Linked DNA regions of Homo sapiens. The protein of the gene in region 1 purifies or fractionates together with the protein of each later gene. This does not show direct contact. Each region holds a gene or a part of one and is shown on either strand. Other genes may lie near its edges. The genes, in order: AMZ1, ANAPC7, NCKAP1, CYFIP1, IFT56, ZYG11B and WASF1.

Region 1 (4,425 bases):
GAGGGGAGACGAAAAAAAGAGGGTCACTTTCAGAAAGGGACCTGGGCTTCCTCACAATATGGCGGTTGCCCTCCTAAGGTGGACATCGGGAGGGTCAGATGGAAGCTCTGTGGCCTTTCCTAACTCGGCCTCACGTCACAGAGCGTCACCTTTCCTGCACTCCACGGCGGCAGTGACAAGGACCCCACCCCAGGTTCACGGGGAGGGGACGTGGCAGGGAATGTGAGACAACACAATATTGCTGTGGCCATTCATGAACAGTCAGTCAGCCCCACTCGGCGTTCACTGTGGGGATTTGGCTGGTGCACCTGCGAGGTGGCCTGACCTGTTTTCCGATTTCCTTCATCTTCTGCAAAAGGTTAACCGCTGGAGTGATGCGAGATTAAACAGAGGTGATAAAAATAGAATGCCTGGCTCATGCTGAGGGTGGGAGCCCACTGGGGTTATGACCAAAGCCTCGGCGCTCTCTGTACCCGTGTCCTTTGACCCTCAGCTGTGATGTGTGTCCCAAAAAAGCGTTTTGAAGTGGGAAGGAGCAAACCACTAAAAAAAACTCCTTTTATCCGCAGCGTTTACCAACTTGCAGATGTCAGTGAAATTTTTTAAGACAGCTGTTAGAAGGACTGTTTTGAAATGCAACTTTGAGGAAGAGAAATTGGTTTCCCTCCTCTCCCCCGTGTTAGCCCCAGGTTCTGTCTGTGCTGTGGTGAAGAGTGACTTGGGACAGTCACCAGGAAAGACGCAAGGCAGAGGAGAGAGAATGAGGGCTGCCTTCTCGAGGAAGGTCACAGCTCACGAATCTTTCTAAACTTAAGTGCTGCAGAAGTTGAACTGAGATTAAATTTAGAGATGATGGTTTCCAAGACACACAGGGCCACGGTTCTTTCAGTTTTTAAACACGTGCAAAGTCCACTGAATTGCTTTCTCGTCTCATCTGTCAGAAGCCCCTGCATTCACAAGGATGGGTCTTCCAGCTTGACGATGACCTCTCTTCGGAGAGCCTCACCCATCTTGGTAAGCCAAGTCAGCGGGGCCTCATGGAGCTAAAAATAGTTTCAGGTCATGACAGATGTTATCTGTATTGCTGTGTGTGCGATGAGTCTGGGGAAGCTAACACATGCCTTCTGAAGTGGCTAGAATACACACTCCCACGTCACAGCCATGCTATGATGAAGGGGTGAGAAGCAGTGTCCCCTCTGAGGCAAATCTCTCTTCAGGCAGCCCCGCAGTCCTCTTCCGAAATCTCATTCTTTTCCCTCTCTTCCTCCCCAAAAAGCCCAAACTCATTGTCAGAGTGGGGAGAGGGGAGAAGCAGCATCCTGACTCCTGTCCATGGTGTGAACCCTGAGGGCACGGGACAGTGAGTGGAGCTCTGCCACCACCCGTTTCCAGAGCATGGGTGAGGAGGGAGGGATGCCGACCTGTTAATATTTGCTTCAGACCTTTCCCCGATGAACGAAATCTCCAAAAGCCTTAAACATAAAATGGCTTAGTCAAGCACGAGTGATAAAGCTGGGAGTCCAAATTTAGATCCCACCAAGTTCAAAGGGGGAGGCTAGAACATTCCAGGGACACACCTACACGCAGAGGGTCTCCATACAGTGCCAAGGGAGCTGCTCTGCAGACCCACCAGGCAGGGACGGCCAGGCCTCGGAGAGAGGGACCGGCTGCCCTGCCCAAGGCCCACCTGGACAGGCAAGTCTTCCCTAGTGGGTCAGTCAACTCCACCGCTTAAGGGGTCCTTCCTATGTAACGGAATTTTTTTACATCATCATCGAGTCTCGAAATGACCTGTAAGGCAGATGGCTGCATCCCCACCATATGGCTGTGGCTGTCGAGATGGGACTGGGAAGGGCTGGAGCCTCAGAAACGGCAGAGCGGAAGTTGAGGCGCAGTCTGTTCTTGCTTGAACCCCGAGTTCTCCCGCTGTTGTGCAGCTTTCTAAAAGCAAGCTGGAGCGGTCTGAGCAGGAAGAGAGTAAGAAGGCGCACGGACGCGGGAGGCCTGCACCCTGATCCCTGAGCAGCCCCCACACACCGGCACCCACGCCCCTCGGTTCTGATAACCAGGAGGCTTTCTGGCCCGTGCAGCTCCTTCGGACTCTGAGGAGAGGCCTGGGTGGGTGGCCGGCACTCTTAGGTGAGGTGCCAACGAAAACACCCCCGTGATTGCTGGGGCTTCACTGATTTGTTTTGTTTATAAAAGGAGGGCGAGGCCTGCACAGGAATATTTTTATCCCCGTGAAGACGGAGAGAATCAGGGCTTCGCGACGGGGCTCATAGACCTGAACTGGGTCTGCCTGCCTGTGTGCTGGAAGCAAACGACGGCCCGTCCTCTAAGCTGGCTTTGCAGCTCCAGTAAGAGTGAGAGACTCACGGGGGCCTGGCTGCCGTCCTGGGAGAGGCCCCGGGAACCGGCTCGCCCTGTACCCAAGGGCTCTCTGGAGCTCACCCCGCACGCAGGCTGCTCCAGAGCTGAAATCTAGCTGTGATCCCTGTGGGGCAACTGCACACAGAGGTGCCCAGTTTCAAGGAAACCTAAAGCAGCAGCAAATTTATGGCTCTTGGAACACGAGGCTGTCAAAGATAAACACCGCAGGGTAATCTAGGAAACACTTCCGGCTTGACTGTAAAGAGCCCTGGCCTGCGAACGCTGTTAAAAACAGATGCAGATCGCGGGTGGAGACGGCCGGCCGAGCCTTCCCTTTTCTGACATCCTACAGCAGCACCTTGATGAATGAGAACCCGGAAGAATGGAGGTTTATTTTTGAACTCAGCTTCTTGGGTAGGGAGGCAAATGAAAACAGGCTGATGTCAGGGGTTTATTTTAAAAAGCAATTTCCAAGAAGCGTCCTGGGGTCACCACGCGTTCAGTCCAACTCTTCCCCGCTGCAGTGTTCCCGTGACGATGAGGCAAATCCAAATAGTCACCGGAGTCGAGCAAACACGGCGGCCCCTGCCTCCCCCGGCGGCTCCACAATGGCCCTCAGAGGGTCCGCGGCAGCCAGGCCCGTCCAACCTCCTGCCCTCTCTGAGAGGGGCCCGAGCTCTCGCAAGATTAACCAGAGACGACACCTACCAGATTCCACCACTGAGGCCTCCCTCGATGCCTGCTCCCTGGGCTTTTTAATGAACGCACTTCTGTCACATGGAAACTGAGCCCGGCATGGAGTCACGTGGCTCCACCCTGGGGCTCCTCTGATGCCGAGAGCTCTGGCTCTCCTGACTGTGGGCCCAGTGTCCATTTTCTCTCTCAGGCAGGGTGCTCTGCCCGCCACAGTGTGCCTGGTTTTCTGGATACAGCATGACTGAACCGCCCCTTCTCAGCAAAGGCCAACACGTCTTTCTCGAGTCCAAGACCATCTCCCGTTCAAGGGCCCTCACCGCGCTTTGTGAGTCTGTCTCGTGGGCCTCCTTCAGTGGTCTGTGACCAGCGGGAATGAATGGGGACGTGTTTTGTTCAGCCCTGACTCTTGGACGCTGGTGGCAGCCGCGGGCGCCCACTCACCTGGCACGTGGACGAAGGTGATGAGCGCGGCTGACGGCTCCCGGGGGCAGTGTGGGGTCCAGTCTGAAGCCGACGCCCCTCTCGGTCAGGCTTTCAGCAGCAGAAGGCAGTGGACTCTTCACCATTTCTTCCAACACTTTCTCACGTAGGAGCTCCACTGTCCCTTCTAACAGGACAGGGCTTGTGCAGCCGGGCTTGGTCTTGTGGTCAGGGAGAAGCGGGCAGGCCAGGGCCGAGCTGCGTCCGGCTCTCAGGGACTTCCTCTCCCTGTGCTCTGCCCACCTGGGGTAGGCCTCTGGGAACAGGGGAGTCACAGAAACCACGGGAAACGGAGTGGGTTGGAAGAGGCAGAGAACACGCTTTTCTCAGGGTCGCTTAACACAGGCAGGGGTACAGGAGAGCTCCGGCCATTTATTCCAAATGTATGAGCAGGAAGGAAAGAGGGAGGGAAGCTGCAAGAACAGGCGACTTTTTTTTTTTTTTTTCCCCCCCATCTGAAGTGAGATCAAACTTCTACCACATTCTACCTGTGCCCTTCTGGGTGGGTGGTGGCCGTCCTCTTGGGCGCCCCCTTGTGAGGGCTCGAGGCCTTTACTGGATGGGCAGGATGCGGGCAGCAGCTTTGTCGGCTGCCAACCCAACTCCTCCGACAGAACGGCAGGTGGCCCCTGTCGGAAGGGGGGTGTCTCTTTATTCCTGCCATCCTCCGGCCGCCTCTCCCGCCTGCACCACTTGGAGGCAGTTGTTTCACGTGGGGCTCTTGATGGCATAACCTGATGTCTGTCACGGACCCCCAAGCAGGAGCAATGCCTAAAGAGGGCAAAGGCCCGCGCGCCTGGCAGAGCTCCCTCCTCTGCTCCAACAGCAGAGCCCAGAGCATCCCTTGGCCCGACGCACAAGTCCCACAATAGCCTCTCC
Region 2 (4,425 bases), on another chromosome or scaffold:
GGCTGGTCTTGAACTCCTGACCTCAGGTGATCCGCCCACCTCGGCCTCCCAAAGTGTTGGGATTACAGGCGGGAGCCACCGCACCTGGCCAATTTTTTTTATTTTTGGTAGAGATAAGGTTCCACTGTGTTGCCCAGGTTGGTCTCAAACTCCTGGGCTCAAACTGTCCTCCCACTTTGGCCTCCCAAAGTGCTGGGATTACAGGTGTGAGATGCCACTCCAAGCCTATTTTTTATTTTTGTTTTGTTTTTTTTGTTTTGAGACAGAGTCTTGCTCTGTTGCCCAGGCTGGAGTGCAGTGGTGCGATCTCGGCTCATTGCAACCACCACCTCCCGGGTTCAAGTGATTCTCCTGCCTCAGCCTCCTGGGTAGCTGGGATTACAGGCACCCGCCACCACGCCCAGCTAATTTTTTTTTTGTATTTTTAGTAGAGATGGTGTTTCACCATGTTGGCCAGGCTGGTCTCGAACTCCTGACTTTGTGATTCGCCTGCCACGGCCTCCCAAAGTGCTAGGATTACAGGCGTGAGCCACCATGTCCGGCTATTTTTTTTTTTTTTTTTTTTTTGAGAGGGAGTTTCGCTCTTGGTGCCCAGGCTGGAGTGCAATGGTGCAATCTCAGCTCACTGCAACCTCTGCCTCCCGGGTTCAAGCAGTTCTCCTGCCTCAGTCTCCCAAATAGCTGGGATTACAGGCATGCGCCACCATGCCCAACTAATTTTGTAATTTTAGTAGAGACTGGGTTTCTCCATGTTGGTCAGGCTGGTCTTGAACTCCCGACTTCAGGTGATCCACCCACCTCGGCCTCACAGAGTGCTGGGGTTACAGGTGGGAGCCACCATGCCCGGCCAATTTTTTTTTTCTTTTTTTTAAATAGAGATGGTCTCCACCATTTGCCCAGGTTGGTCCCAAACTTCTGGGCTCAAGTTGTCCTCCCCCCTTAGCCTCCCAAATTGCTGGGATTACAGGCAGGAGCCACTGCACCTGGCCTCCTTGTGTTTGTTTTTGTTTTTAAGTGAAAGTGAGTTTATTAATAAAATAAAGGAATAAAGAATGGCTACTCCATAGGCAGAGAAGACTTTGATATTTCTTATTATAGGAAATAATGATTTATTTGCAAAACACTTCCAGGTGGCAAAAATACTTTTTTAGAACTTCATTTTTTGCCTTCCATAGGTGTACACATTTGGTAATGGGGGTGGTTTTATTCCTTTGTTTTGAAAATTAATACTGTAAGATTCTTTTATCCTTATTTATGTGTAGAATATGTCTTTGTGTTTGATTTGGCAGCATATTATAGTGAAGAAAACACCTTTAACTAAAATCAAAAGATCTGGTGTCGGCTGGGCATGGTGGCTCATGCCTGTAATCCCAGCACTTTGGGAGGCCGAGGTGGGTGAATCATCTGAGGTTGGGAGTTCGAGACCAGCTTGACCAACATGGAGAAACCCCGTCTCTACTAAAAATATAAAATTAGCCGGGTGTGGTGGCGCATGCCTGTAATCTCAGCTACTCTGGAGGCTGAGGCAGGAGAATCGCTTGAACCCAGGAGGCAGAGGTTGCGGTGAGCCGACGTGGTGCCATTGCACTCCAGCCTGGGCAACAAGAGTGAAACTCCATCTCAAAAAAAACAAAAAAACAAACAAAAAAAGATCTGGTGTCTAGTTTGAGTTTAGGTGCATACAAGCTGTGTGCAGTGTGAACTTGGGCAAGTTACCAATTTGTGAGCTTTACTACTTTTTTATTTATAAAATGAGAAGAATAGTATTTTTTCTGTTACTTTTATAAATACCAAATAAATTCATGAATGTGAGAATATATCAGTATTTAATATTCTAATAATACTGTCATGTCTCCTGCCTTGCTCATTTTATTGAAAAACTGTTTTGTGCAACTTGTGCTTAACAATAAGGAATTTTATAGGTAAAATGACAGGTGCATCCTCCTGCCTTTAAAAGATACGAAATCTAAGCAGTAGGGGCCTGGTGTATTTTAGTTAGTGCTGCTTCATCCAAGTCTTGCTGAACTTTAAAAGTAACCAAACTTGATGAGAACATGTTTAAGCACCTCCTCATATTAAGGTATTATTTACTATTTTCTGAGTTTTTGAAGCTATTTCTTCAGTATGATGGTGGCTGCTATTAAAAACACTTGAAAGTTTATTATGAATTAACCTCTCTCATCATAAGCCTGGATGCTGTATACTAAATCCTGTTCTGGTAACCTATGAAAGTCTTCTCTTACTCCAAGAATAATCTTGTTGCACAGATGAAGAATGTCTGCTGCAATGCTCAAGGTATCTTCCTTTTGTAAGAAGCCTTTTTTTTTTTTTTTTTTTTTTTTGTGAGGTGGAGTCTTGCTGTGTTGCCAGGCTGGAGTGCAGTGGCACAATCTTGGCTCACTGCAACCTCCACCTCCCGGGTTCAAGCGATTCCCCTACCTCAGCCTCCCGAGTAGCTGGGACTACAGGCGTGTGCCACCACGCCCAGCTACTTTTTTGCATTTTAGTGGAGACGGGGTTTCACCATGTTGGCCAGGATGGTCTCGATCTGACCTTAGGTGATCCGCCTGCCTTGGCCTCCCAAAGTGCTGGGATTACAGGCATGAGCCACCACGCCCGGCCAAGAAGCCATTTTAATTATAAACTTTGAAGGATACTATTCCTTACTTTATTAGAAATATACCATAATCTCCTTCATAATGACCTGTGGATATTTGTAGGACTTTTTTTTGAAAATAGTAATGTTAAAGCATCTCAGCTTTATAGCATCCACTGCTTGATTTTCATTGCCATCATTCTTAGAGCACCTGTATGAGTCTGCATTTGTCAGCAGTACATATCCTTCATTCTGTAGTGCTCTTACAGCTAGGAGCAAAGATGTGTGCCTCAAACATAAACCTATAACATTTACAGTTTTTCTTTCTTGTCTGTTAGGGAGTTAACTGGCTTCTCAGTCTATGTAAAGGACAAGGAAGTGAGTCAAAATGTGTCTAAATGAATGTCTGTTAATATATGGTAAACATCGCCACATATTCCCTCACATTTTAAAGGAAAATTCCAGTGTTAGATTATTAAATCTTGGTAAATCTTCACCTTTTAAGAGTAAACATACCAACATAGAATTTCTTACTCAGTTTTTAGAAAATGATGACTGCTTGTGTTTATAACTGGTGGAATGTGGCTTTATGATGTTTTTAAGTGAGTATCTATTTTTAAAATAGTTGACTTTTTTTGTTTGTTTGTTTGAGATGGAGTCTCTCTCTGTTGCCCAGGCTGGAGTGCAATGGCATGATCTCAGCTCACTGCAACCTCCACCTCCTGGGTTCAAGCGATTCTCCTGTCTCAGCCTCCTGAGTAGCTGGTACTACAGGCGCGTACCGCTGCACCTGCCTAATTTTTTGTATTCTAGTAGAGACGGGGTTTCACCATGTTGGCCAGGCTGGTCTCGATCTCCTGACCTCGTGATCCACCCACCTCGGCCTCCCAAAGTGCTAGGATTAGAGGTGTGAACCACTGCGCCCGGCCAATAATTGACTTTTTCATTAGGTATTACTCAAAACTCATTCTTTTAAAGTGACAGTCAAGTAGCTTAAAGGAAATTTTGATATTTGTTGAGAAAGATAGTCCATCAGTCATAGTTTGTTAATATAACCAGCAGTCAAGAAAGGATCTTAAATTTAACTTTTTATTCTTTACAAGTATTGACATCAATCCTGGAGTTTTCCTTTTAAGTATTTTTCTTTGCATTTTCAAAATAGTAGCCTAATATGGAAAATCTGAGGCCAAGTAAAAAATAGTTTTATTTTTAGTATTTCATTATTCCATTGTTTGAATTAGTGTGAATCAATGCTATATTAGATTGTTTTATATAATGTAGGTCTATAATTGGAACAGATGTTCTTTATCTTTAGAGCCACTCTTTCTATAAATATCTGGCATACCAAGCCACAGTTAAATCGAAGAGATTGGGGGTTGACCTTTTTTCTTTTGTGCCCTCACATTGACTGCTTCCTTAGGTTAATGATCTAGCAAATACTGTTGTGTTTAAAATCTACTAATTTTGCCAGACACGGTGGCTCACGCCTGTAATCCCAGCACTTTGGGAGGCCGAGGTGGTTGGATCACCTGAGGTCAGGAGTTCAAGACCAGCCTGGCCAACATGGTGAAACACCATCTCTACTTAAAATACAAAAAAAAAATTAGCTGGGCGTGGTGGCGGGTGCCTGTAATCCCAGCTACTCAGGAGGCTGAGGCAGGAGAATCACTTGAACCCAGGAGGCAGAGGTTGCAGTGAGCTGAGATCGTGCCATCGCACTCTAGCCTGGGTGACAAGCGTGAAACTCCGTCTCAAAAAAAAAAATCTAATTTTAAATTGGAATATTGTGTTTATCTGTGTACTATTAGGAAGGTCTTTTATCACTTGCC
Region 3 (4,425 bases), on another chromosome or scaffold:
GTCAAGTGAAATCAATTATTTCTGATTTGTACCTGTGTGGTTTTTTTGTTTTAATTATTGGTCTTAACAATGTGTTAGGTAGAAACCTCTGTGTCATACTTGATTCCTGCTTCTCTCACACATCTAAGTTACTGAATCCTTTCAATTTTATCTCAGAAGTCTGTCTCAGATCTGCCCATTAAAATTTTTTTATTACACTTGCCTATTTCATATCCCTTTTTCATGCCTTGTCTGAACTATTTCTAGCAGCTCTGTTACAATTTTCCTTTTTCAGTGTTTTCTTCTGCCAATATCAGAGTTATCCTTAGAAAATTACCTCTTCATGGCCAGGCATGGTGGCTCACGCTTGTAATCCCAGCACTTTGGGAGGCCGAGGCAGGTGGATCTCCTGAGGTCAGGAGTTCGAGACCAGCCTGGCCAACATGGCGAAACCCCATCTCTACTAAAAATATACAAATAAAATTAGCTGGGTGTGGTGGCAGTCGACTGTAGTCCCAGCAGCTCAGGAGGCTGAGGCAGGAGAACCCAGGAGGCAGAGGTTGCAGTGAGCTGAGATTGTGCCATTGCATTCCAGCCTGGGCAACAAGAGTGAAACTCCTTCTCAAAAGAAAAGAAAAGAAAAGAAAATGTCTCCTCATGCTGTGGCTATTTTAAAAAATTGTCGCTGTCTTTTTGCCTGCAGTTTACAATCCAACCTCTAGCTTGGCATTCAAGGCCCTTCCTAATAGTTGAAACCTCTGTACTTTACCTTACACGTTATGCTCCACCACATAGTAGTTCTAACTACAGCTCTGAACCATCATATCTTTACACAGTTTTTTTCCAAAGGCCATTTAATCCTTCCAGTGAAATATTCTTTTTCATTCCTTGCTTGCCTGGTATGTTTTTACTTGTCTTTTTAATAGTAATTTAAATAAGCGTCTATGAATTTACTCTATGACGTGTTTCTTCACACAAGATTTACCCAAGATCTACCCGTTTCTGTTTTCACCAAGCTATGTGCATTACCCAAGCTAGCTAAGTAAGCTCTGTATCTCACTTATATTTCTGTCTTTTAATATTGTTGTGATATTTGCAACACAGCCTGGATTCAGCTACTGTTTGCTTGAATAGTTAGTATGCTTTCAGAGTAATTGGTGTAATGTAAGATTTCATTCTTTTCTAAATTTAGTTGCTACCCAAGCATTGTGCCAAAACTATCAGTCAAGCAGTGAATAAGAAATCAAAAAAGCAGACTGGTAAGAAAGGGGAACCTGAAAGGGAGAAACCAGGTGTTGAGAGCATGAGGAAAAACAGGCTGGTTGTGACCAAGTAAGTATCCACTTATATTATACCTTTTTGCTCCAGGTAAAATATTTATTTCATTTTTTTCTATTGACATTAGTACTGAGGAAATGCTAATAATTGTATATTCTTCATTTTCCAGCCATTTTAAAAAATATTTCTGAGCTTAATTAACCTGTTAGTTGCTTATTTCATCTCAAAATACAGATTTTGGCCTTTAGAAGAAAATATATGTAATAGTTGATATTTGTCTTTTTATACTAAGTACTGAAGGCCAATTATATGTTTAAAAAATTTTGTGTGTTACATTATAAGCAATCTGTAATTTTTAATTTATTTAAAGTTAGATAGTGGAGACTTTATTTTGGCATGTTTTTGATATATTAGAACATACCCAATGTCATTATTATAAAACAGAAATAACAGACCAGGTAGCATTCAGGGATCTTTGCTTGCTTCATTGTTTGGAGGGGAGGTGTAGGTGGGTAATAATTCGGTAAATATTTTTTGTTTAAAGTATAGTTCCTACTTTCTTGCTAAATTGAGCAAGCCATTGCCCTTTTATAGACAACTTTCCTTCTCTCATAACAGAAAGTACTTCAGGAATTGGGCGTGATTATCTTTATGAGTGCAGAATAAGCTCTACCTTTGTATATTAAGTCAGTATATTCATTACTACCTAAAGGTAGAAACAAATGACGCCATCTTTAGAATATTGCTCTTATGTGTTAGTTATAACCTTAAAGATTTTGAACTTTCTCAGTTTAGGAGAATAAAAAGTCGAATTCTCTAAGCATTATCTCCAAATAAGGTTGATATATTTATAAAATTAATTTTGTATTGCCTGTGATGACATGTGAACATTTTAACTGTTTATTAATTTTTTTCAGCCTTGATAAATTGCACACTGCACTTTCTGAGTTATGCTTCTCTATAAATTATGTACCAAACATGGTGGTATGGGAACATACCTTTACCCCACGAGAATATTTGACTTCTCATCTGGAAATACGCTTTACCAAGTAAGAAAGAATATTGACTGTTTTTGTTTGTTGACTCAGTAATGAGTTTGTTATTTAATTATACAGTGTTTTATAAGGAAAAGCATTAGTAGAACTGGATTAGTGTTAAGAATAATGAACCGGGCCGGGCGTGGTGGCTCACGCCTATAATCCCAGCACTTTGGGAGGCCGAGGTGGGCAGATCACGAGGTCAGGAGATCGAGACCATCCTGGCTAACACAGTGAAACCCCGTCTCTACTAAAAATACAAAAAATTAGCTGGGCGTGGTGGTGGGCACCTGTAGTCCCAGCTACTCGGGAGGCTGAGGCAAGATAATGGCGTGAACCCGGGAGACACACTTGCAGTGAGCCAAGATCATGCCACTGCACTCCAGCCTGGGTGACAGAACAAGACTCTGTCTCAAGAATAATGAACTGGGAAATGCAAAGAATAGTGAACTGAAAATTACTGAAGATACCCAGATTCTTTTCTCATACCTATTAGTATTAACTAGTAACACCAGGCAAACCAGTTAATATCTCTGAGTCATAGCTTCCTTATATACAAAGTGAGAATATTGGAGCAAATCAATGTATTTCATCTTGCAGGTGGCAACCCAGTAGGTTCATGAAATCAGTTTATTAGGTTGTAGTCAAAGTTTAGAGAAAAGTGGGAGGGAAAGAAAGGACAAGAGGAAGAAAAAATAGGAAAAAAAACCCAGTACACTGTGTGCATTAAATATATATATTGCTTCGTGAAATGTTTCAGTTACATGTATGCATGTGTATTGACTTGCAGTGTTAAGATGCGTGTCATGCAGTAGGTCACAGTAAAATGTTTGAAGACCTGAGGACTAGATGAACCCTTACATGTTTTCTGAATTCACATGTTGCTGTTAAATAAGCCAATAGAATTCTAGATTCTTGAATTCTCAATTCTAATTAGAATTTCCTGTTATATATGAATATATATTTTATGTATGTATATGAAATAGTGCATTGATAAGTCAGAAACCTTTCAACTTTATATATATTGTTTTAACCTTTTTCTGAAGTTACATCCTTATTTATTAATATTTATTCATGAAAATTTTTATTTATTTGACAATTTTTTTCTTCAAAGCCTTGAAGCAATTTATAAAACAAAATTTTGCCAAAAGGTTTTCAAAGTTTCTGTAGTCATTAACAGGTGGTGTTTGTATTTGCACTATATGCTTAACAATGTGTTAAGTACTCTAGGTAATAATGAGATAAAGATAGAACTGTAGCTGGTGAGATGACTAAAAGAATTAGAGAACAGAATATGACAGTATATAAAGTGGCACTAAGTTGAGTGTTAAATTATCAGTTGACTTGAGAAGAGTCTGGTGATGAACTGTCTTTTGTTCTCCTTAGTAAGTCAGGCATCCTGACAGTAAAACCCAGAATGCCCTAGAACTTAGACCAAAGGGGCATTGTGCCTTGTGGTGTTTATTATTCTCAAGTGGGTTAGAGGTGGGACATTGGTGGGTGGAAGGGAGAGTTCAGTGTACAGCTCCCTTGTTTTCCTTGTAAACAGTCTGCTTTGTTAATCCACAGAGAAGCAGTTTTTTTTTTAACCAAACATCTACTTAGTGATTAGGATCAAGGCAAGGGGAACAGCTTGTTTACCTTGGAAAGATTTTTTATTTTATTTAATTTATTTATTTATTTATTTTGAGACGGAGTTTTGTTCTTTCGTCCAGGCTGGAGTGCAGTGGCACAATCTCAGCTCACTGCAACCTCCATCTCCCAAGTTCAAGCAATTCTCCTGCCTCAGCCTCCCGAGTAGCTGGGACTACAGGCGTGTGCCACTGTGCCTGGTTAATTTTTGTATTTTTAGTAGAGACGGGGTTTCGCCATATTGGCCAGCCAGATAGCTTGTGAATATTAGTGGGTTGGTTTTTGTCAATCAACTGAGCACAGTCTTAGGACTTAGGGATTATACACTAGGATAGCAGTTTTCATCTTGCGTTGGCTCTTCTTGGCCTGTTTCTAGTGATGGGATTTGTCGGTTGTCTTTTAAGGATTCATCCTTACAAATACAAGTCTAAGATCTTTACAGATCTAATGCTCAGGGAGTTTTAAAGAAAGTGAAATAGGGGTGGTCAGTGTAGGATAA
Region 4 (4,425 bases), on another chromosome or scaffold:
TGGGAGTTGAAATGGAGTCAGACTCCTTTTTAGTGCACATGACACATCTGACAATCAAGGCACGTCTCCTCACGCTCCCAACTCACTTGGGTGGGAAACAGAGGAGCAGCAGAAACCACAGGCGCCACTTTCTCTGCCTGAGCAGGCAGCGAGGACCTCATTTAACCCGGGCCTCACCAGCCCCACCCGCTCACAGCTCAGGGTGGGTCCCCCCAGGGAGAGGGTGCAGGCGGGGCTCAAGGGACGAGAACCTGAGTGCTGGAGGGTCCCACGGCGCGGCGTGGTACTTTTATGTCGAAGCCGCTCTTGGGGTCCTTCTCGCCCCGCAAGGCTGGGTCATTGAAGGGCTCATGCCCCGTCTCCCAGTCACACACGGTCTTCCTGATGGCCTGCAGGACACTGAACACCCCACCAAGTGATCAGCAAGGCCCAGAGGCCGAGACCTCCAGCCTCACAATCACACCATCTCCTCACCCAACTACAAGGCTCTCAGAACAGCCCCCATGAAAATACAAATTACTCTGGGGGCCATGGAGGGATGTGGTAATGGACCAGCTCAACAGGAAAGTTAAAAAGGAGTCTGCCTTCTGGAGAGTATTACTACCCCCAGAAGACTGCCCTGAGCTCCAGTTCGCATCTGTTAGCCCAGGGCAGCAGTGAGGTGGCTCTGAGTCATGCTGTGGGCAGGGAGAGGGCAGAACACAGCCTCCGCACGGAGCAGAGCTGGGCCCCGCCTGCCCGCAGCTGGCTGTCCCCAGTAACCAACAGGAATGTGAAGTCACCCACATGACCAGAGCCTGGCCATGTCTCTCGACTGGTTTGGAACACAGCCTCATCACCAACAGGGCTCCACCGTGCAGAGACCCCCATAAGGCACCATGCATGAACCACAGGCACCGCGAGCCTGGGATAAATGCACCTTGTCCCGGGGTCCTCAGACTCCCTAGACACTCGGCAGCTGACTTACTGTCCATTGTTTGGGTTAATAATTGGACCCATGCATTACTTTTAGAGGTAATTCACCAAGAGGGCATCTGAAGGTTGAAGATAAATATATTGAAATCATTTTTGAGAATTTAACGCTCCTGTTGTTTGAATCCAAGTTCATCCGAGGACGTGTGGGCACAGCGGGCACAGGGCGTGGGGAAGGCTGACCTCTGGATGACGTTCTTCTTCTTCTTGATGGCCTGCCGCAGCGGCTCCCTAAGGGTCACCTGGGAGAAGTCCTGCAGTGCGGCATAGACGGTGTGCCGGATGGCGTGGTTGAACACGCTCTCCATCCTGCCCATCAGCACCTGCAGGCCTTTGATCATGGCGATCACCTGCGGGGGACACAGCAACAGGGACGGCCCTTCTTAGGGATGGCACCAAGCCTCCTCTGCCTGGCACATGCCGGGGGCTGCTCCTCCTCGCCCACAGCACCTTACGCCCTCCCGCGTTCGTGCCCTGCAGCTGCCCTGCCCCAAAACGTCTTCTCCAAAGCCATAGTCAATGGAACTGTGCCCGCATCTGACTCCCCATCAGACCATGAGCACCTGGAGGACAGGGATGCATCTGACTCGAAACACACATGCATCCACCCCAGCACACCCTCCTGTGATGGAATTCAAATAGGAAAGAAGAAAAAGACTCAGGAAAGCAGGCATGATATTACTAGAAAAAGAAGTTACAAGAGGTTGTAGTCCAAATCCCATATTGTTCACAACAAAGGCGCAGTGAACTACCATTCACAGAAAAAGCCTGGAAGACTCTGATGGAACATAATTACATGACAAAGAGCTTCCAAAGGAATTCCTGGGACAGAAAAATGGTGCCAGGGCTCATTATTTCCCTGTTTCCAGACAGTAATTTTGTCATGACAGTGTGCTTTATTACTTTCTGAATAAACAATTGAAGGTCACAAACCAAGTATGACCTTTACAATTGCATGAGCTTTCTTACGGCTTTTGCCGTTTATAAATATTTCTACAGCCAACTTCATGATAGCTATGTGAGGCCTAGAAATCTCTCTGAAAGCAGCAAGTGAGGCAGAGCAAGACACACTTACCCCAAGTCCACCCTGCCGTGTGGATGTCTGACATATAAGACACCAAAGTGGAACATTTAATAGCACCAGTGAAACATAATTCACTTCTTTTTATCTTTTAACTAGAACGCTGTACCTAAGACTAATACATTTGGGAAAATCTTAACAACCCTTCTTTGGCCAGGCACAGTGGCTCACACCCATAATCCTGGCACTTTGGGAGGCTGAGGCGGGAGAATCACTTGAGACCAGAGTTCAAGATCAGCCCGAACAAAATGGCCAGACCCCATCTCTACAAAAAATTTAAAAATTAGCCAGGTGTGGTGGCATGAGCCTATAGTCCCAGCTACTCGGGAGGCTAAGCCAGGAGGATCACTTGAGCCTAGGAGTTCGAGGCTGCAGTGAGCCATGACTATGCCACTGCTCTCCAGCCTGGGTGACAGAGCGAGACCCTGTCTCAAAACAAAACAAAACAAAAACCCTACTTCAACATCTGAAAATGGTCTTCAGTCCACAGTAATAAAAAAAAACAAAAAACAAACAAACAAAAAAAACCTTTTGAAATTAAGTATTTGACAGATTCAAAATTAAGGCAGCTTTTTTTTTTTTTTTTTTTTTTTGAGACAGGGTCTCACTCTGTTGCCCAGACTGGAGTGCAGTGGCATGATCATAGCTCACTGCAGCCTTGAACTCCCAGGGTCAATCGATCCTCCTGCCTCAGCCTCCTGGGTAACTAGTTCTATAAGCATGCACTACCATGCTTGGCTAGGCATCTTCCTACTTTTATTAAATCTGTTGGTTTGAAGTTCACTTAGCAAGAACACAAATGTGTTTCCCCAAGGCTTCACACAGTCTCCCTCTATCACTTTCTGGTTTTATTCACACCTTTTGAGTTCCTCATTATGGCTTTATAAACAGCCTGATTCATGGGTAAATGAAGACGTGTCTGACAAGTACTTGAAACATGGCTTATATGATTTTGGTGCTTTTCTTTTTCATGAAATTTTCAGGTGGAAAAGTTGACAGTCTGCTTTTAATTCATCCTTCTATAACGTAAAGAATTTCCAAATAGACTGCTTTCATGTAAGACTCATGGTCTATATGCAATTAAAATAATGAAAATTTTAGAAAGGAAAAAGTCTGGAAGAAAACGCACCCAGCTGCTCAGCGCCATCTCTGTGATGGCGCCGCAGGCACTGTGCCTTCCTAATGCCATGCTTGTGTTTTCAGCATGCTTACTTTGGAAAACTGATGATTTTATATTGTTTTTCCAATCAACAAAAAAGAAAAGTTCTATTTAAAAAACCAAACGAGGAAAAACCCATTTAAGTGAACATAACAATCCTACATATTCACACTTACAGGAAGAAGGAAAAGGCAAGTTAACAGCAAACTGAGAGCTTTAGATGCACGCATTAGAAAACTAAAAAGGATAAAAATCATAATACTTATCAAACATTCATCACTAATTTATAGAAAACAGCAAAATAAACCCCCCCAAAATCGAAGAAAAATAACTAAAAGCACCCGGGCGCAGTGGCTCATGCCTGTAATCCCAGTATTTTGGGAGGCCGAGGCAGGCGGATCACAAGGTCAGGAGTTCGAGACCAGCCTGGCCAATATGGTGAAACCCCGTCTCTACTAAAAATACAAAAATTAGCCTGGTGTGGTGGTGCACACCTGTAGTCCCAGCTACTTGGGAGGCTAAGGCAGGAGAACTGCTTGAAACTGGGAGGTGGAGGTTGCAGTGAGCTGAGATGGCGTCACTACACTCCAGCCTAGGTGACACAGCGAGACTCTGTCTCAAAAATAAATAAATAAATAAATAAATAAATAAATAAATGTAACAATGAAACAGAAAACAAGTGTATAATCAAGGGTGATCAACAAAGACAAAGCTGTTCAGTAAATAAACAGTAAAACTGACAAATGCTTAGCAAGAATAACAAAGAAAAAAAAGACAGAGAAGCAGGCCAGGCACAGTAGCTCACGCCTGTAATCCCAGCACTTTGGGAGGTCAAGGAGGGTGGATCACTTGAGGTCAGGAGTTCAAGACCAGCCAGGCCAACATTGGTGAAACCCTGTATCTACTAAAAATACAAAAATTGGCCAGAAGTAGCTTGAACCCGGGAGGTGAAGGTTGCAGTAAGCTGAGATTGTGCCACTGCACTCTAGCCTGGGCAACACGCGAGACTCTGTCTCAAAAAAAAAAAAAAAAAAAAAGAAGCACGAGTTACCAGCATTAAGAATGAAAAAGGGGACATTAGCAGTTTATAGACAGATTAAGAGATTATGAAAAAATACTGTCATAGGATAGACAGAGGTCAATGGGATAGGATTAAGAGTCCAGAAGTTAACTTACAATTGATTTTCAACAGGGTACCAAAACAATTTGATGG
Region 5 (4,425 bases), about 140 Mb from region 1:
CAAGACTCGGTCTCAAAAAAAAAAAAAAATTGGAAAAGAAAAATAATATATATGATATGGTCACAGAGAATGGCAGTGGTTGAGAAGGTAATAAAAATTATTATATCAACATTTTACTTTTTTTTCCATAGAATTGAAATAAAATGAAACTTATCTGCTGGAGCTTCCACTAAATTATTTTTGCTTAAGATTGAGAATTTACAAATATGGTAAATTTTGTTATATAGATACTTGGCTGCTGGAAACTAAATGAGTGTCTCCTAATTCTTTTATTCAAGCCAGGGATAGAACAGAGAAAAGTAACTGTGGGTAATCTTTGATACTTTATATAAAGTATTGAGTTAATGCAAGGAGTTAATTTGAAAATGATCTCATAGCTCCACATTCCTCTTAATCAGTGTTATTCCATGTTTCTAGGAGTATATTCTCAAAGGAGTGGTCAATGCAGCCCTTGGCCAGGAAATGGGTTCAGTGAGTATGAAATCACTGATAATCTATAGGTTGCAAAGTTATAAGTGTATGGAAGAGAACAAAATGACTATCAAAGTGCAAGCAGCAATAGGCTCTCCTGTAGCTCCTTTTATTTCTCCATATCCCCCAATCCAGACTCCACTGAGAAAAGAATGTTATGTTATTTAGAGACAAAAAAAAAAAACAAAAAAAAAACTTGTAACCCTAAAGACTCCTGCTTGTTTAAAAGGGTCCAATTTTTAAATAGCAACTTATTTAATAACTAACTTAAAAATCATTGCGCAACTTCATTCTTATTTGCAGCGACTTTTTTTAAACTTACATATATCTAGCTATAATTTTGGCATCTGTAAAGTAGGGAAAATTGTTTCTCTGGAGAAGTTATTTTTATAAACACCAAAACACTGTCTAAAATTAAGCTCTTATCCATCTTAATACAGCGTTCTTTGTTCTTTTTGGAACAAAATGGGATACAAATAAATCTTTTTATCTCAAGTTCATTCTGCAGTGCCTTGTATAGTAGATAGGCAGCAAATATTTATTAAATAAATGAGTTTAATAAATACTCCTTGTTATATCTACAGCTCCTGTTCCAAGGTCTGATATATGGTAAAAGAGCAATAGGTATTTGTAGAATGATTGAGTTCATTTAATGAAGTTTTAGGATAGAATTTAAGGATTTGATTCTTTTTCTTCTCCTCTGCCTGTCCCTGCACAGGTTTTAATTCAGTTTCGGGTCTAGTTGTTATGTTAATGAGAATTAGTATTGTTTGGGGCAAGATTTAAAACAAAGGTATATTTAAATCCTGACAAATATGTTAGAACCATATAGTATAATAAAATAAAATATTTTTACCTTATTCCTCTATATCAGCTCAGTTTGTTTTTCAGAGGGATCATATGAAAATTGCCCAGCAGTTCTTCCAGTTGGTGGGAGGATCAGCTAGTGAATGTGGTATGTCTGAAATCTGTACTTATGATCTGCTTCATAATTGGAGTGGGGCATATATTGACCGTGAAGTTTGATTCTCTGTCTAGGGATGTATCTATTAGGCTTCACATTATAAAGTGGGAGGTCAGAAATAAGAGAGAATATTGGAATTAGTTCTTCTCAACATCTCAGCGAAAGTGGGATAAGAGAATAAATAGAGTAAATTTCCTGTTTTGTTCCTGAGAGTTTTAAAACTTTGAATCAGTTTTAGATATAAAATGTTATTTTTTACTGAGTTTTCAAGAGCTCTTTTGAGCATTAACTTTTGTCACATTCTGGTAGGTCATTTGCCTTTAAACTTTGCCTATGATATTTTTTTCCATATAAAAATATTAAAACCAGCCAGGCATGCTGGCTTAGGCTTGTAATCCCAGTACTTTGGGAGGCTGAGGCAGGCAGATGGCTTGAGCCCAGGAGTTCAGGACCAGCCTGGGCAACATAGGAAGACCCCATCTCTATAAGTAATAATAAAAAAATCAGCCAGGTATGGTGGCACACACCTATGGCCCCAGCTACTTGAGAGGCTGAGGTGTCAGGACTGCCTGAGCCCAGGAAGTTGAGGCTGCAGTGAGCCATGATTACACCACTGCATTCCAGCCTGGGCAACAGAGTGAGACCGTCATCTCAAATATGTATACACCATACAACCAATACTACAGAAATTCAAAGAATCACCACGGGCTACTATGAGCAATGATATGTCAGTAAATTGGAAAACCTAGAAGAAATGGACAAATTCCTAGACACATACAACCAACCAAGATTGAACCATGAAGAAATCCAAAACCTGAGCAAACCAATAACAAGTAATGAGATCAAAGCCATAATAACAAGATTCCCTGTAAAGAAAAGCCCAGGACCCATTGGCTTCACTGTAGAATTCTACCAAACATTTAAAGAAAAACTAATACCAATCCTACTCAAACTATTCCAAAAAAGAAAGGAGGAGGGAATATTTCCTCTCATTCTTCAAAACCAGTATTGCCCTGATAACAAAACCAAAGGCACATCAAAAAAAGAAAACTAAAGTCCAATATCTCAAATGAAGAGGGATGAAAAAATTGTTAACAAAATATTAGCAAACAGAATTCAACAACACATTAAAAAGATCATTCATCATGACCAACTGAGATTTATCCCAGGAATGCAAGAATGGTCCAACATATGCAAATCAATGGGATACATCATATCAGCAGAATGAAGGGCAAAAACCATATGATCATTTCAATTGATGCTGGAAAAGCATTTGATTAAATTCAACATCCCTTTATGATAAAAATCCCCCCAAAAACTGAGTATAAATGGAACATACCTCAAAACAATGAAATCCATATATGACAGGCCCACAGCTAGTATCATATTGAATGGGGAAAGTGGGAAGCCTTTCCTCTAAGATCTGGAACAAGACAAGGATGCCCACTTTCACCACTGTTATTCAACATAGCACTGGAAGTCCTAGCTAGTAATCAGACAAGAGAAAGAAATAAAGGACATCTGAATTGAAAAGGAAGAAGTTAAATTATCCTTGTTTGCAGATGATATGATCTTATATTTGGAAAAACCTAAAAACTCCACCAAAAAACTATTAGAACTCATAAGCAAATGTGGTAAAATTGCAGGATACAAAACCAGCAAACAAAAATCGTTGGCATTTCTATATGCCAACAGCAAACAATCTGAAAATCAAAAAAGTAATCTCATTTATAATAGCTACCAATAAAATTTAAAAATCTTAGGAATTAACCAAAGTAGTGAAATATTTCTACAATAAAAACTATAAAACATTGATGCAAGAAATTGAAGAGGACACACAAAAAAGGAAAGATATTCCATGTTCATAGATTGGGAGAATCAATGTTGTTAAAATGTTCATACTACCCAAAGCAATCTGCAAATTCAATGCAATCCCTATGAAAATACCAATGATATTCTTCATAAAAATAGAAAAAACAATCCTAAAATTTATACAGAACCACAAAAGACCAGAATAGCCAAAGCTGTTCTGAGCAGAAAGGACAAAACTGGAGGAATCACTGTACCTGACTTCTAATTATACCTCAGAGCTATAGTAACCAAAACAGCATGGTACTGGCATAAACACAGACATATAGACCAATGGAGCACATTAAGAGAACCCAGAAATAATCCATATGTCTACAGTGAACTCATTTTTGACAAAGGTGCCAAGAACCTGTAGAGAAAGGACAGTCTCTTCAATAAATTATGCTGGGAAAACTGGATATCCATATGCAGAAGAATGAAACTAGACTCCCATCTCTTACCCTATACAAAAATCAAATCAAAATGGATTAAAGACTGAAATCTAAGACCTTAAATAAGGAAAATTCTACAAGAAAACATTGGGGAAACTCTCCAGGACATTGGTGTGGGCAAAGACTTCTTTTTATGTTGTTGTTCTTGTTTTTGTTTTCTTTCAAACAAGATAGGCTTTATTTAGATCACCAAAACTAACATTTTACAGAAAGGTAGCCATAACATTACACAGCAAAGTATAGCTGTAAAATCTCAAACAAGAAACACAATGCTTTCTTTAGATCACCAAAAATAATGTTTCATAGAGAGGGAACTGTTAGAAGCAAACGTGTAGCTGCAAATTTTCTTTTGCCGTCAATATCGAGTCCCTCTAAAATACTTTGAGACTACTTTGTGGTTTCCAAGTACAAACTAAACCTTGTTGGACAGAGTTGCTCAGCTTCATCAAAAGAATGAAACCAATTTGCAAAAAAAAAAAAAAAATTACTTAATGCTAACAAATAAAAAAACAATGTGGTTCTAGCTAATTAACTGCAATGTCTATTGAAATAGCCTAACCTATGTATGCTTCCACGAACATTTCACTGTGGACCCAGTTGCTTTTTTCCTGCCATCACAGATGGCCTGCACAGTAGCAAGTGTTGTGTCAGAGCACTATAGGCACCCAGGAAACAATTCCTAACAGAATA
Region 6 (4,425 bases), on another chromosome or scaffold:
TACCAAAAAAAAAGAACTGTGTTTTTTTTCTTTAAGTGAAATTCTCATTTCCCAGGAAAGATATTTCTAAATTGTGTATTAAAGTGATTTTTAAGAACACTGACTTAAAATGTAAGGCCATCTTAGGTTATAAACTTAAGGTATTCTTTTTTTTTTTTTTTTTTTTTTTTTGAGACGAAGTCTCGCTCTTGTTCCCCAGGCTGGAGTACAGTGGCGCGATCTCGGCTCACTGGAACCTCCGCCTCCTGGGTTCAAGCGATTCTCCTGCCTCAGCCTCCCGAGTAGCTGAGATATCAGGCACCTGCCACCATGCCCGGCTAATTTTTGTATTATTATTATTTTTTTTTAGTAGAGACGGGGTTTCACCATGTTGGCCAGGCTGGTCTCAAACTCCTGACCTCAGGTGATCCGCCCGCCTAAGCCTCCCAAAGTGCTGGGATTACAGGCATAAGCCACTGTGCCCGGCCAACTTAAGGTATTCTTTCAGAATGAGCATGGTGTAACTAGACACTGAATAATAGTGGTGAATGAGACACTGTTCTCACCTCAAGGAATTTAAAGATTAGGAGACTACAGTGAGTCCATTTGTTGAGTAAAAGGTCTTAAGTAGATCCACTGTTTATGGTACATTCCGGTGCCCAATTCTCATTCACCCAAAATTCTGTTGTTCAAGATGTCGCTGCCAGCACCCATGGTTTCTGAAGAAGCAAAGTGTTTGAATCAGGTTCTATATTATTCTTTGAAAGCTACGATGTAACTCTTATTTATTTATTTAGAGACAAGGTCTGTCTCTATCACTGGAGCTGGAGTGCAGTGGCATAGTAACAGCTCACTGCAACCTTGACGTCCAGGCTCAGATGATCCTCCTGCCTCAGCTTGTAGCTAGGACTACAAGTGCACGTCACCATACCTGGCTTTTTTTTGTATTTTTTGTAGAGATGGGGTTTCATCATGTTGGCCAGGCTGGTGTCAAACTCCTAGGCTCGAACGATCTGCCTGCCTCTTCCTCCCAAAGTGCTGGCATTACAGGCGTCAGCCATCAAGCGTGGCCTAATTATTTATTAATATAAACTCATTCCACAAATGATTTGACACAAGAAATACACAGAACCACTTTAATAGTAAAGTGTGTATATATATGTGTATATATATATATATATATATATATATATATATATATATTTTTTTTTTTTTTTTTTTTTTTTTTTTTTTTTTTTTTTTGAGATGGAGTCTCACTTTGTCACCCAGGCTGGAGTGCAGTGGTGCGATCTCGGCTCACCACACCCTCCACCTCCCAGGTTCAAGCGATTCTCTTGCCTCAACCTCCAGAGTAGCTGGGACTATAGGCCTGCACCACCACACCTGGCTAATTTTCGTATTTTTAGTAGAGACAGGGTTTCACCATTTTGGCTGGGCTGATCTTGAACCCCTGACCTCAGGTGATCCACCGACCTCGGCCTCCCAAAGTGCTGGGCTTACAGGTGTGAGCCACTGTGCCTGGCCTACTTTTAGTTTTAATTAGAAGTAAGGAAAAATAATTTTTCAAAAATTATAGGGGCCGGGCATAATGGCTCATCCCTATAATCCCAGCATTTTCTGAAGTTGAGGTGAGTGGATCGCTTGAGCCCGGGAGTTTGAGACCAGCCTGGGCAACATGGCGAAACCTAGTTTCTATAAAAGATGTAAAAGAAATTAGCCAGGTGTTGTGGTGTGCTCCTGTAGTCCCAGCTACTTGGGAGGCTGAGGTGGCAGCATCATCTGAGCCCAGAAAGCAAGGCTGCAGTGAGCTGTGATGGCACCATGCACTCTGGCCTGGGTGACAGAGTGAGACTCTGTCTCAAAAAGAAAAAAAAAAATTCTAGGATAGAGGGAAAATAGTCAAATGTAGACTTGTAGGCCATGCATAGGGATTTTTGTGGCTCTGCTGCAAGTAAAAAGCGACATGGTTCTCCATATAAGAGGGAAACATTCCATATCCTTGTCAGGGGAGATGGGGAGGGGAGAGAATTTTTTATGAGAAGTTAACTATGAATTAAATTTCTTCTATTGGACCTTAATAGGGGACATACTATAAAGGGCCTTATATAGGATATGTGAGAGTTGTTTTTACTAATATCCTTATAGCAGAAGTAGTAACATTTAGTGAGATTTTCGCTTGGGTTTTTTTTTTTTTTTTGGAGACGGAGTCTCACTCTGTTGCCCAGGCTGGAGTGCAGTGACACGATCTCAGCTCACCACAACCTACACCTCCCAGATTCAAGCATTTCTCCTACCTCAGCCTCCCGAGTAACTGGGACTACAGGAACACGCCACCATGCCCAGCTAATTTTTGTATTTTTAGTAGAGGCTGGGTTTCACAATTTTGGCCAGACTGGTCTCGAACTCACCCGCCTTGGCCTCTCAAAGTGCTGGGATTACAGGCATGAGCCACCGCACCCAGCTCCTTCTCTTGTATTGTTTGATGAAAACTCACTGCATACCACAAAAAGGCAATGCAGTAAAAGCTCTTCTGTGTCAGATAAAGAAGAATAATTCAATGAATGGGATGTGACCGAGAAAACTGCCTTGTACCCACCTGAACTCCCACCTGGAGGCTTATCCGGTCCTTCCTACTACATTACCCAGAAGCAGAGTTGTTCACTCATAAATCGAAAACTGCCTCTTTAGCTACATTAAACTGTCTCTGCCCTAAAGTCGTTTTCTTTTTACTGTACCCACAGGTTCTGAGGACTCCCAAATTTCTTAACAGTTGATCCCATCATATTCCCAGTCTCTAATCTATAGGTTCCTTTCCTCATAACTCAAGGAATGGACCTTTCACAGCTCAGTAGGAGAAAATAAAACATAATAAGTAAATAATAGTGCATTTTTGGCTGGGCATGGTGGCTCACGCCTGTATTCCCAGCACTTTCGGAGGCCAAGGCGGGTGGATCACGAAGTCAGGAGATCGAGACCATCCTGGCTAACATGGTGAAACCCCATCTCTACTAAAAATACAAAAAATTAGCTGTGGGTTGTGGCACACATCTGTACTCTCAGCTACTAGGGAGGCTGAGGCAGGAAAATCACTTGAACTGGGAGGTGGAGGTTACAGTGAGCCGAGATCGCACCACTGCACTTCAGCCTGGGCGACAGAGTGAGACTCTGTCTGAAAAAAAAATAATAATAATAATAATAATAGTGCATTTTCATATGAGTATTTATTTTTGTCACTACTTTTAGGTATTAGAGTTATTTAGGTTTTACTCTATGGAATGACAGCCCTGAATAATTTATTTTATTTTATTTTATTTTTTTTTTGAGACGGAGTCTTGCTGTCGTCCAGGCTAGAGTGCAGTGGCATGATCTCGGCTCACTGCAAGCTCCGCCTCCCACTTCACGCCATTCTCCTGCCTCAGCCTTCCAAGTAGCTGGGACTATAGGCGCCTGCCACCACGCCTGGCTAATTTTTTTGTATTTTTAGTAGAGACGGGGTTTCACCACGTTAGCCAGGATGGTCTCGATCTCCTGACCTCGTTATCTGCTCGCCTCGGCCTCCCAAACTGCTGGGATTACAGGTGTGAGCCACCACGCCCAGCCCCTGAATAATTTATTCTAAAATGCACTGTAATTTGGGGAATATTAGAATATTTTGTCTCCAACTCAGATAGTTTAGGTTCCTACCTTGTGGGCTTATTTTGTTTATATTTAAATGGAATTCACTTCTATTTGTATTAAAATGTTTTAATGTGGCTGGGTGTGGTGGCTCACACCTGTAACCCCAGCACTTTGGGAGGCTGAGGCAGGCAGATCACTTAAGGTCAGGAGTTTGAGACTGGACTGGCCAGCGTGGTAAAACCCCACCTCTACCAAAAATACAAAAATTTAGCCAGGTGTGGTGGCTGGTGCCTATAGTCCCAGCTACCCAGGAGACTGAGGAAGGAGAATTGCTTGAACCCGGGAGGCAGAGGTTGCAGTGAGCCAAAATTGTGCCATTGGACTCCAGCCTGGGCAACACAGCAAGCTGCAGTGAGCCATGATCACACCACTGGGCATGAGCCATGATCACCCCAGCCTGGGCAACAGAATGAGACTGTCTTTAAAAAAAAAAAAAAAAAAAAAAAGGCTAATAAAATATTTCAAAAATTTAAAAATTGTATGTGCAGTATGAGTGCCATTAAGTTTTTAAAAAGCATAGTAAATGCAGCCTGGCATTATGGCTCATGCCTGTAATTCTAGTACTTTGGGAGGCTGAGGCGGGAGGATTGCTTGAGGGCAGGAGTTTGAGACCAGCCTAGGCAACATGGTAAAACCCCATCTCTACTAAAAATAAAAAAATTAGCCAGGGGTGGTGGCATGTGCCTGTATTTCCAGGCTGAGGCACAAGAATCGCTTGAACCCAGGAGGCGGAGGCTGCAGTGAGTCGAGATTGCGCCACTGTACTCT
Region 7 (4,425 bases), on another chromosome or scaffold:
TATAGTAAATAAAAACAGTGTTTTTAGGAGAATAATGGTGATAATTGTGAATTCACCATGCAGCAGCTGACATTGAAAGCAAGTTTTTAAAAAACGTTTTGTATAATGTTGATATTCTAGTAATTGGAAGTTAAATCAATTTTGATTATTTTAGTTGGGTAATTTCATTTTTATTGTCTTCATACAAGCAAATACAGTTGGCCCTTGAACAACCCAGAGATTAGGGGCACCAACCCTCTGCATTGCTGAAAATCTGTGTGTAACTTCTGACTTTCCAAAAACTTAACTACTTATAGACTACTGTTGACCAGAAGCCTTACCGAGAACATAAAGTGTTGTTTAACATATTTTGTAAGTTATATGTATTATATGCTGCATTCTTACAATAAAATAAACCAGAGAAAATAAAATGTTATTAAAAATCATAAGATAATTAACTATTAAGTGGAAGTGAATCATCATAAAGTCTTCATCCTTGTCATTTTCACCTTGAGTAGGCTGAGGAGGAAGAGGAGGGGTTTGTCCTGCTGTCTCAGGGAGGCAGAGAGGGAAGAAAATCCACCAGTAAGTGGACCCAGGCAGTTCAAATCCATGTTGTTCAAGGGTCAACAGTGCTTTATTCTTCAATGAAAAATAAAGTCTCATTCTGTGTTGGCTGAAATTTAATATTGTTAATTTATTTTTGATTTCCTACAGGTGAACTGGCACAAAGGTTAATCTCAAGATGCCGCTAGTGAAAAGAAACATCGATCCTAGGCACTTGTGCCACACAGCACTGCCTAGAGGCATTAAGAATGAACTGGAATGTGTAACCAATATTTCCTTGGCAAATATAATTAGACAACTAAGTAGCCTAAGTAAGTATATATCAATTAAAAATATACTCACAAACCAGAATGTTATGCTTTAGCGTATTAAGAAGTTGTGCTTCTGATTAATTTGGGAGTATGATTTGGTGAGAAGAGTACAAAATTATCCTGAAAAATATAGTCACATGAGTATAATTATTGAGTTTTACAAGAACCTCTTCTGCATGATGTTTCTTCTGGGAAAGGAAAATACGGACAGAATCTCTAGGAACAGAAACACATGATGAATGAAAATTATTGAGATTGTTTTAAAAATATATAATCTGCGAAAGGACCAGAGTTGTACTTTTCCTTGGTTATTATCACTATTTACTCTGTTTAGAGGCCTCAACTATTTGTGTTTTCAAACACTAGTATCCCTCTCTTTATATATATATTTAATTAGTTTAGGGAAATATTTTTATATTAGCAAAGATCTAAGGTGAGAGGTATGGGGTCATTATTAGTCAGAGGGGTAGGCTAGTCAAGTGGGATGTCTAAGAGACATTAGGATATAAGTCAGGAATCTGATATGCAGCATTGTGTGAAAACAGCAAATGAACTTGGCCTCTGGCAGACAGAAGTCAAGCAGGTTGGCCAGAGAATAAAGGCCAGTGAAAGAGGCAGATTAGGGAGAAGGAGACAGGCAATATGTTCTCATTGCAGATTTACAGAATAGAGCAACTTGGTTAAGGAATTAAACAAATTATTTTCTATTCTAAGTTTATTTAGAAAATTTAAAAAATCTGGTCTGTCTTTTGCATTGAAGGATTAGCTTTTTCATAAGACATTGATATTTCATTTTAAAGGTGAAACAAGGTGTTCTTGGCAGAGATAATATCCACCAAGTGGTCCTAGATTTATCTCATCAGCCATATAAATTCTCCTGATAAGCAGGCTTGGCTTTTCTTTTCTTTTCCTTTTAACTTTTGTCCTTTCTTTTATAATTGAGTACTTAGCACAAGAGGTTGTTAATCTAATTTGTTTCCGGTAAGAAAGTTTAGGCATACCTGTAGCGAGAGCAACATAAAAAGTTACATTTGAATATTCTCTGTGAGAGTACTAAATTTTTGCATTGCCTGTGAAATAGTAAGAATAAATAAAAGGCTATTTTATTTGAATTTTAAGTATATTCCTTGTTCCATTCAGTGGTCATTTTTTTCAGGTTAGTGAATCACTAAAATATTGTATTGTTTACTTGAGGCTAATAAAAAAAGTGTTAGAGTTCCCAGTTTAAATATGATTAACTATATTGTTTAAAGATATTTTGCAGATTTTTTGTGACCTAGCACGGATTGAATCAAGTATAACATGATGTCATATAAAATTTGTTTTATATATGTTATGTACATACATAAGTATATAAGCATGCTAATATTAAAATACATGTTAAGAACATAGAAATGGCATTAGTAATTTTGTATAACATATTTCTTAAAATGAATTGTGGATCCAGTACAGGCATCTTATTTTAGGTATATACCCAATATAGAATTTAGAACTAATATTGTGATTAAGGGTGATAATTTGCAGTACTAACCCATTTGTTACAAAACTTAAAGATGAAAATTTAAGGAATTTTTAAGTCTATATAGTCCATATAAGCAACATCTATCAGCAGGCACATGGTTATGCTGTAGCGAAACTCTGAAAATTATAAATACCTTGTAACAATATAACTAAATTAGGTGTTGGGTGCTTCACATTTAGAATCAGAGACCTGGAAGGCATTGTTTAAGCAGTTTGTAGAGATTCAAAAACAAAGAGAAAACCCATAAAATATTCTAGCAAGGTGTGACAATAGCTTACTGCCCTGAAATTAACTTCTCTGGCAGCTTTCCCACTTGACATAGTTGAGAACCTGGAATTAAATTTAAAAGGCCTCTAGATAGCCAGAATAAATAAACTCATGCACTAAAGACCATGCACATAAAATAACCAATTGATCCCTCTCTCAAAACCTGTTTACTTTTACCTTGATAGTTCAAACAGATTTGATGATGTGGTTTCCAAACAGTTATGCTTCAGAGGATAAAAGGAGGAAGCATGGGAGGAGATACTAGAAGGAGGCATCACTGAACCCAACCAAAAGGAGGTAGTTCACAGGAAAGGACAAAGTGATGTAAGGGAAGATGCAACATAAAAACTGGAAAGAAGCCATTTAATGTAAAGCAAATATCCTTATACATTTCAAGGCTGTTTTCTGGCCTAGGATAATATTTGATTTTCATAATTCATGCCCGTGAGTCCCTAAGAAAAAATTAAATTATGTTTAATTTTATATTCCATTTAAGAAGAGGGAAGCTTAGAATACATTTCACAAGTTTCCATCGAAAATAGTTAAAATAACAATTGATGTATTAGATAATAAAATCTGAATTACTTAGAAAACTTGGCTATCCAAAATGTTTCTAGATAATGGAGATTTTCACTTTGGTGCTATTATTAGTACTGAAAGTGCTTGAGAATATAGCAATGAAAGTAAACTGCAGGGATCCACATGGCTCAGGGCTGGATATCTTCCTGACCTTTTCCTCACAAAAATGTACTTCCTTTTTTTATTTTTTTGAAACAGAGTCTTGCTCTGTCACCCAGGCTGGAGTGCAGTGGTGCGATCTTGGCTCACTACAAACTCCACCTCCCAGGTTCAAGCAATTCTTGTACCTCAGCCACCAAAGCCGCTGGGATTACAGGCGAGTGCCATCATGCCTGGCTAATTTTTGTATTATTTTTAGTAGAAATGGGGTTTTGCCATGTTGGCCAGGCTGGCCTTGAACTTCTGGCCTCAAGTGATCCACCCGCCTCGGCCTCCCAAAGTGCTGGGATTACAGGTGTGAGCCACCATACCCAGCCAGTACATCTGTTTTTTGTGAGATTTTTCCTAGTAGAACATAATTCTGTTTTGTATTAGGTAATTACCACAAACCTATAATTCACTTTATATCAATTTCCTCTTTCTCATTTTATTGCTTTCTTAATGATGCAAGGTTTTTTACTCCTTAGCTGAGCTAGGTCCAGGTTCTTGTCTCACGATGAGGAAGAATTAGGCACACAGATACTCTAAGAGTGAATGGAGTAGAATTTATTAAGTGAAAGGAAAGCTCTCAGCCAAGAGAGGGGTCCTGAAAGCAGGTTCCAGGTTGCCCCGTCACAGTTGAATACAAGGGCATATATATATATATATATATATATATATATATATAGAGAGAGAGAGAGAGAGAGAGAGAGAGAGAGAGAGAGAGGAGAGAGAGGAGAGAGAGGAGAGAGAGAGAGAGAGAGAGAGAGACGCTGATGGGGCTGGGTTCCCTATTTGTATGAGGCACAGATTACTGGTGGCTTCACCACATTTCCCTAGTGCACATGCAGGCCCTTAGTCTGCTGTGGGCATGTTTAAGCAAGCCCCCTGTGCAAGTTCCCTTATCTGCACAAAGCATCTGGTGTAAGCCCTTGTGGGGTGGGTCAGAGGTTCTCTGGGGACCCTTCCCTTACTGTCTGCCTAAAGCAAGCTAGCTAACTCCTTTCATTAACAACCACTGGGATTCTGAATACCTAAGGGATCTCTTCCCCTGGCTTTTCT

Evidence for each region.
Region 2: the proteins of AMZ1 (region 1) and ANAPC7 purify together in Homo sapiens (affinity purification with mass spectrometry, with the first as the bait; one large-scale study listed by BioGRID). This does not show direct contact.
Region 3: the proteins of AMZ1 (region 1) and NCKAP1 purify together in Homo sapiens (affinity purification with mass spectrometry; 2 studies listed by BioGRID and IntAct, with this or other methods). This does not show direct contact.
Region 4: the proteins of AMZ1 (region 1) and CYFIP1 purify together in Homo sapiens (affinity purification with mass spectrometry; 2 studies listed by BioGRID and IntAct, with this or other methods). This does not show direct contact.
Region 5: the proteins of AMZ1 (region 1) and IFT56 purify together in Homo sapiens (affinity purification with mass spectrometry; one large-scale study listed by BioGRID and IntAct). This does not show direct contact.
Region 6: the proteins of AMZ1 (region 1) and ZYG11B purify together in Homo sapiens (affinity purification with mass spectrometry; one large-scale study listed by BioGRID and IntAct). This does not show direct contact.
Region 7: the proteins of AMZ1 (region 1) and WASF1 purify together in Homo sapiens (affinity purification with mass spectrometry; 2 studies listed by BioGRID and IntAct, with this or other methods). This does not show direct contact.

Annotation. Positions count from the first base shown.
Region 1 is NC_000007.14:2,715,033-2,719,457, forward strand, and holds part of AMZ1 (archaemetzincin-1), read left to right. Parts: 3' UTR 1-4,425. UniProt on the Homo sapiens protein: Probable zinc metalloprotease.
Region 2 is NC_000012.12:110,390,010-110,394,434, reverse strand, and holds part of ANAPC7 (anaphase-promoting complex subunit 7), read left to right. Parts: intron 1-4,425. UniProt on the Homo sapiens protein: Component of the anaphase promoting complex/cyclosome (APC/C), a cell cycle-regulated E3 ubiquitin ligase that controls progression through mitosis and the G1 phase of the cell cycle.
Region 3 is NC_000002.12:182,954,343-182,958,767, reverse strand, and holds part of NCKAP1 (nck-associated protein 1), read left to right. Parts: intron 1-1,171; coding exon 1,172-1,311; intron 1,312-2,174; coding exon 2,175-2,306; intron 2,307-4,425. UniProt on the Homo sapiens protein: Part of the WAVE complex that regulates lamellipodia formation. The WAVE complex regulates actin filament reorganization via its interaction with the Arp2/3 complex. Actin remodeling activity is regulated by RAC1.
Region 4 is NC_000015.10:22,917,537-22,921,961, forward strand, and holds part of CYFIP1 (cytoplasmic FMR1-interacting protein 1), read right to left. Parts: intron 1,323-4,425; coding exon 1,156-1,322; intron 400-1,155; coding exon 252-399; intron 1-251. UniProt on the Homo sapiens protein: Component of the CYFIP1-EIF4E-FMR1 complex which binds to the mRNA cap and mediates translational repression. In the CYFIP1-EIF4E-FMR1 complex this subunit is an adapter between EIF4E and FMR1.
Region 5 is NC_000007.14:139,167,927-139,172,351, forward strand, and holds part of IFT56 (intraflagellar transport protein 56), read left to right. Parts: intron 1-417; coding exon 418-471; intron 472-1,362; coding exon 1,363-1,426; intron 1,427-4,425. UniProt on the Homo sapiens protein: Component of the intraflagellar transport (IFT) complex B required for transport of proteins in the motile cilium.
Region 6 is NC_000001.11:52,816,635-52,821,059, forward strand, and holds part of ZYG11B (protein zyg-11 homolog B), read left to right. Parts: intron 1-4,425. UniProt on the Homo sapiens protein: Serves as substrate adapter subunit in the E3 ubiquitin ligase complex ZYG11B-CUL2-Elongin BC. Acts to target substrates bearing N-terminal degrons for proteasomal degradation with the first four residues of substrates being the key recognition elements.
Region 7 is NC_000006.12:110,123,901-110,128,325, reverse strand, and holds part of WASF1 (actin-binding protein WASF1), read left to right. Parts: intron 1-696; 5' UTR 697-724; coding exon 725-857; intron 858-4,425.